2 linked regions of the Homo sapiens genome follow. The protein of the gene in region 2 interacts with the protein of the main gene of each other region in a pairwise test. Each region holds a gene or a part of one and is shown on either strand. Other genes may lie near its edges.

Region 1 (3,500 bases), on a different chromosome or scaffold from region 2:
AGAATCAATATCATGAAAATGTCCAAACTGCCCAAAGCAATCTACAGATTCAATGCTATTGCTATTAAATTACCAACATCATTTTTCATAGAATTAGAACAAACTCTTCTAAAATTCTTATAGAACCAAAAAAGAGCCCAAATAGCCAAAGCAACGCTAAGAAAAAAGAACAAAGCTAGAGCCATCACACTGCCCACCTTCAAACTATACTACCAGGCTACACTAACTAAAACAGCATAACACTGGTACAAAAATAAACACATAGACCAATGGAACAGAATACAGAACCCAGAAATTAAAGCTGCACACATACAGCCAATTGACCTTTGACAACATTGACAAAAATAAGCAATGAGGAAAGGACTCCCTGTTCAATAAATGGTGCTGGGAAAAATAGCTAACCATATGTAAACGAATGAAACTGGACCACTACCTCTAACCACAGATAAAAATTAACTCAAGATGGATTAAGGACTTAAATGTAAGACCTCAAACTATAAAAGTCCTAGAACAAAATCTAGGAAATAGTCTTCTGGATATCGGCCTAGGCAAAGAATTTGACTGAGTCCTCAAAAGCAATTGCAACAAAACCGAAAATTGACAATTGGGACATAATTAAAATAAAGAGCTTCTCCACAGCAAAAAAAACTATCAACAGAGTAAACAGACAACCTACAGAATGGGAGAAAATATTCGCAAACTATGGATCCAACAAAAGTCTAATATCCAGAATCTATAGGGAAGTTAAGTTAAACAAATCAACAAGAAAAAACACACAACCTCATTAAAAAGCAGGCAAAGGGCAAGAACAGACACTTCTTAAAAGAAAACATATAAGCAGCCAACGAAACATGAAAAAATGCCCAACATCACTAGTCATCAGGGAAACGCAAATCAAAACCACAATGAGGTACTATCTCACACCAGTCAAAATGGCTATTACTAGAAAGTCAAAAAACATCATGTTGGCAAAACCACTGAAAAAAGGGAACTCGTATACACTGTTGGTGGGAATGTAAATTAATTCAGCACCTATGGAAAGCAGTCTGGAGATTTCTCAAAGAACTAAAAACAGACCTAGCATTCAACCCAGCAATCCCATTACTTGGTAAATAGCCAAAGGAAAATAAAATTGTTCTACCAAAAAGACACCTGCCCTTATAAGTTTATCACAGCACTGCTCACAATAGCAAAGATAAGTGGTGGCTCATGCCTGAAATCCCAGCACTTTGGGAGGCTGAGGTGAAAGGATCACTTGAGTTCAGGAGTTCAAGACTATCCTGGGCAAGAAAGTGAGACCCCTATCGCTACCAAAAAAAAAAAAATTTTTTTTAATTAGCCAGGCATGATGTCACATGCCTGTAATCCCAAGTACTTGGGAGGCCGAGGCAGAAGGATTGCTTGAGCCCAGGATTTTCAGACTGCAGTGAGATAAGATAGCACCACTGCATGCCAGTGTGAATGGAACAGCCAGACCCTGTCTCAAAAACAAAACTAAACAAAACAAAAATAGCAAAGACATAGAATCAACCCAGGTGTCCATCAACAGTGGATTGGATAAAGAAAATGTGGTACATACAAGCCATGGAATACTTCGCAGCCAGAAAGAAAGACCACCACCATGTCCTTTGCAGCAACATGGATGCAGCTGGAGGCTGCCTCCACTTATCTTAAGTGAATTAATCCAGAAGTAGAAAACCAAATATTGCATGTTCTCATTTATAAGTGGGAGCTAAACCCTTGGTATACGCGGACATAAAGATGGGAACAAGAGACACTGGAGACTCCAAAAGGAGAGAGGGAGGGAGAGGAACAAGGACTGAAAAATCTCCTATTGGGTACTATATCTACTATCTGAGTGACAGATTCAACAGAAGCCCAAACCTTGGCATCACGCAATATACTCTTGTAACAAACCTGCACATGTACCCCCTGAATCTAAAATTTAAATTTAAATTTTTTTAAAAAATGGGCAACTAGGAAAAAAATAACCCCTATCTCTGGGTCTAAGGTACTAACTGCTGAAAATGAGTGACCTTCGATCATGAAAGTGGCAGTGAAAGTGTAGTTCCCCAGAGAGAGGCAAGCTATACACAAGGCAGGGGGAGGCCAGGAAGAAAAGAGGCTGATTTATAGTATGAGAAAGGTCTTGGGGCTCCAGAGGACTCAAGGGTGGGCGTTAGTGAAGTGGGGGAGGTGAAAAGAGGGGAGAAGAGTGCCTTGGAGATGTGGTGAGACGGAACAAGCCATGAGCATGTTGGAAGGCAGCCAAAGATCCCAGGGGGAAGGCCCCTCTCAGGCTGGTGCATGCTGAGATCCCGAGTCAGGATAGAGGGTAAACACGCGGCTTTGCTCAGTGGCCAAATGGAAGACTGCCAAGAAAGTCAGTGAATGGCTCTGAAGGCAATTCTCCCCATCTCCCACTGCAATCAACAAGAGCTCACCAGGACCCAAAGGCACAGAGCTCCAGGGACTGGAACCGGAGAGGCTAGAAGTGACCCAGCCCTCACACACAGCTTTGCCTTGGAAGTTGAAGGGGGACTTTAGCTGGCCCATAAATATGGACCTTGTACAGACCACAGAAGCAAAAGAGGCAATGGATTAGTATCCAGAACACACAAAGACCTACAGCAGATCACTAAGAAAAATGCAGCCCAACAGGAAAGTGGGCACAAGACACAGACAGGTGACTCAAAGGAAAAACTGGAATGGTACAAACATGTGAAGAGCCTCAACCTCACTGGCAATCTAAATCTGAAGGAAGGGAGAGAAGGACAAAGACAGACAGATGATAGGTGGATGATAAAAATACTCTTTAAGGCCAGGTCCAGTGGCTCACGCTGTAATCCCAACATTCTGGGAGGCTGAGGCAGGTGGATCACTTGAGCTTAGGAGTTTGAGACAAGCCTGGGCAACAAGGTGAGACCCTGTCTCTACAAAAAATACCAAAAAAAAAAAAAAAATTAGCTGCGCATGGTGGCGTGCAGAGTAGCTGGGACCCCAGTTACTTGGGAGGCTGGGATGGGAGGATCACTTGAGCCCCAGAGGTCGCGGCTGCAGTGAGCCGTGATTGCACCACTGCACTCCAGCCTGGGTAACACAGCAAGACCCTGTCTCTCCCCCTCTTCCCCCGGCACCTCTCTCTCCATATACACATATATTTTTTCTCTTTAGAGGAATATAATAAATAGCAAAGTGCTGACAAGGACGTGGGAAACACGAACACTGACATGGTGCAGGTAGAAATGTACACTATGGTGACCAATTTGGCAGTATCTTATCAAATTGAAAATGTCCATGTACTACTTCTCAAATATTTCCTCTGGGAAAACTCCTGGAGAACTCTCAGACAGGTTAGCAAAGAGTTTATCAAGGATGCTCACTACGGCATTATATTTGTCAAGTAAAACCCGAAAGTAACTTAAATGCCCATCAGTCAGGGAAGGATAATCCAAATATTACATCTCCTTTGATGCAAGGTACTTAAAAGGAATGAACTA
Region 2 (3,500 bases):
TCAAGGCGTGAGGATTTAGGCTAGTATTATTTTTTAAACAGAGCAACAATCAAAATCAGATTAGAGAAGCTGTCAATTGTTCTTCCCTCTGACCACCTCTATCTTTTCTTTTTTTAAACAATTCTGACAAGAGCTCTTGGGCAGAGAGGACATGCCCATTGTTTCTCAAACACAGGAGCAGGGGGCTCGCACTGGTAAGAAGCCGCTGTGCTAGAAGGTTCTGTTTACTTGTCTGTTCTTCACCTCCAGCCCCACTAGCCCCTGAGTGCCTGCTGGATGGAGAGTGAGTCTTATTCCTGTTATTTCTCCCAGCATACAGCAGGTGCCCAATACATGCTTCCAAGTGAATGTGGACAGCATGATTTGAATGCAGCAATAGGCCAAGGTGCCCTTGAAAAGAGGGTCCTGCTGCCAGCCCTGAGCTCTGAGAGCCAAGCCAGCCATCACCGACCTGTGGGAACAGGAGGGGAGATGGCATAGGGGATCCGAAACAGCAGCCGGTTCGAAGCCCTGCCCCTCCTGTCTTTGGGCATGTATTACATGATGCCATTTTTCTTCTGCAGATTGGCATGCTCATTCCTGTCGAGCATGGCTCATGCCCTGACTCACTGAATCAAGACAAACTCCTTGGACCCTGATTCCCTATTCAGCAAAATGGACACAAGCCATGTGGCCTGTCTCACCTGTGCTTGTGACAACTCAATGCATGATGGATGTGAAGGCCCTTTGGGAACAGACGCACCAACTAGATCATGCCCAGGATGGTTGTCAAGCATAGCTGGAAGGAGGAGTGGAGACTGAATGGGGACGCTGGTTCCCAAAGGCATGTGTAGAAGGGAATTCCCACCGAGAGCGATGTCAGTGGATTCTCTGTGTGTCTTAGGCCGGGGGTGGACTCTGTGTTTTGGGGTAAGCTGAATGCTTTGGACCACCATTACACAGCGGGAGGAAGCTCACACCAGTCCTCCTTACCTGCCTCCTCGTCTCCCTTTGTCTATCTGGCAGTTGCCATTTGCCAAGCCCATCTTCAATGCAGTGCTGTTGGAAAGGAGCTCTGGATTGTCACATGGAGAACAAGGGCCACCCTTTGCTGTGACCTTCAGATTTCCCCAATCATCTTTGGACACCGTGCGTTCATGAGTCTCCCTATTGTCCCCTGCCATGCTGGAGGAAGAGCTGGGCTTCCTTCTGCCCCACGCTGCTCAACCAATCCCCAGGCTTCCCTGTCCTCCATCCCTGTCTTTCTCCCTTCTTTGCCTACTCCCTCTCCTCCCATGACAGAGATGCTTGAGTCTCCTCTGTCTTTAAACAGATCTCTTTTTACCCACTGTTTTGCTCCTTTTTCTGCAGGCTAAATTGCAGGGAGCAGCATCTCCTCTCAGCAACTCCCCATCCATCCCCATCCACTGCCTTGCCCACTGCAGCAGGCCCCATGGGGCTCCCCTTGCTTGGCCAGCAGTGCTCCTGGACGGCTCCAGAGACTTCCGAAGCACCGGATCCAGGGCCTTTTCCAGTGTCCATCCCCTGGTCCTCTAGGTAGCCCTGGGAACTGCTGCCCTGCCTTCCTTAGAGCTTTCTCTTCTTACCAGGTCTTCAGCCCCTTCTGGCACCCTGCACAGTTCCTCTTTTCCCTGGCCTTTCCTCCTTCTTGTCCCCAGCAGATGGTCTTCATATTTCTGCCCTGTCCTTCAAGACTTTTCCATACACATGCAACCCATGGTGGTCTTGCCTGTTCTCATGGCTTCGCCTGCCTGAACAAAGCTCCACTCTGTATGGTAGCTCTGGCCCCTCTGCCAGGGCCCACACCACCTCCAGCCTGGACTCCCATCCAAGTCTTCCAAACTCAACCTCTCCAAATTGGGACCCCTCTTACTCCCACCTAAAAGCCTTCTCAGGCTCTCCTCATCTGATGTGTCTTTATGAATATAACCATAGTCTCCAAGCTAAAAGCTCCAGCCTAATCAGCCCCACTGCTCCATTTCTTCCACCTCCTGTCCTTTATGTCCATGCTTATCACTGAGGAATGGGAAAGAAGAGGCCATGTGAAGATGTCATACAACAAGACCTTATACCCTAGAGGACTCTGTACCTGGCTAGCTGGGGAGGGGTGGAGGACAGAGAGGAGGCCAAGGTCACCACAGGACAAGGACAGCAGCCTCCAGGCTTCTCAGCCCACTCTGCCTTGCTCACAGGGTGAGCTTTGGTGCTGCTTTGATCATGAAACCCTCTATTCAAAACTTTGAATGGTTCCCCAGTGCCAAAGGTACAAGTCCAAGCTCTTCAGTTTGACATTAGAAGGGTTTTGTAACCTAGCCCACACCTACTTTTCTAGCTGGAGTGAACCCCATGCCCTCAAAAGACTTGTGTGCTTTTTGTCCACTCTGTTTTTCAGTTTGCTCCTAAAGGATCCCACCCCAGGCCTCTCACACATTTCCTTGATTTCCTCTGCCCTCCATGTTCTCAGCATCCCTCGCAGATCTCAGAGCCCAGAGACTTGATCAGAACGTTCATCACATTCATTTTCACGTAGACGCTGTCTTTGTCTCTCAGACTGTCCCGAAGGGCAGGGGCGTTTCTCTAGTGCCCAGCCCAGAGCCCAGCATATGCCAGGCCCTCTGCTCATGAGCAGGAAGAACCTCAGAAGAGGATGATGTCCTGGGCTCTTACCTGTCTGAGGACACCCTGCAGTTCCTTGCTGGACCACATGTCAGACAGGAGAAGCCGGGCAGCTTCTGCGGCCTTGGGTGAGGCACTGGGCAGGTGAGAAGTGCATTTGTGAGATGAGATTCCAGGAGGTGTGAGAAGGAGCACCCTCTTCCCTCCCACCCCCACTGCCAGGGCCTGGACACAGGGGAGGCCTCAGAGGAGGCCTCAGGTGTGCAAAAGAGAGGAGCCCCATTGGGGTGTGGTGAGCCTGGTCACCCTACCCAGTGGGCACAACCCCATGCCCCTGCCCACCTAGAGCACCCCAGGACTCTCCTCAGGGGCCATGAGGTGGCAGTGCTCTTCCACTCCAGTCCCCAGCCTTGTCCGGGGAAGAGAGAGCCCCACAGAGCAGGATAAAGTCCCTATTCAGTTGGACCTGCTGCCCCATGCCTCCTGCTGGCCCTCTGAGGACCTTGTGCCCCCGAGTCCCCCAGCCAGGAAGTGTGTTGCCTCTTCCCTCCATGCAGCCCTGGGGCCTGGATGCTGGACCCTTCTCTCCACGCACTCTCGGCTTCTGGAACTTCTCCTCCATTCAAGCCTCCCCCGTCCCTGGCTCCCCCTGCCCTTGGTGCTTCCCCTACTCCATGGAGAGCTGCGGGACTGCTTCCTGCTGTGCAGGGTGAGGAGGGGCTCTGATTGGGGTGCAGCCCGTGGGAGCAACCCCCCGCCCACCTGCTTCGGCACAGGTTGATGATGTTGTTGAGCATGCTGCTGGAGAAGTACTGCTTGGCCAGTTGTGGCTGCGAGGCCATCAGGTTCCTCACAGTGTAGCAGGCCGAGGACAAGATGTCTTC

The links. The genes of interacting proteins can lie anywhere in the genome.
Region 1: the proteins of PKP1 (region 2) and HSF2BP interact in binary tests that used the Homo sapiens proteins (3 or more experiments, as listed by UniProt).

Annotation. Positions count from the first base shown.
Region 1 is NC_000021.9:43,607,489-43,610,988, forward strand, and holds part of HSF2BP (heat shock factor 2-binding protein), read right to left. Parts: intron 2,502-3,500; exon of another isoform or gene 2,399-2,501; intron 1-2,398. UniProt on the Homo sapiens protein: Meiotic recombination factor component of recombination bridges involved in meiotic double-strand break repair.
Region 2 is NC_000001.11:201,325,006-201,328,505, reverse strand, and holds part of PKP1 (plakophilin-1), read right to left. Parts: coding exon 3,379-3,500; intron 2,753-3,378; coding exon 2,668-2,752; intron 1-2,667. UniProt on the Homo sapiens protein: A component of desmosome cell-cell junctions which are required for positive regulation of cellular adhesion.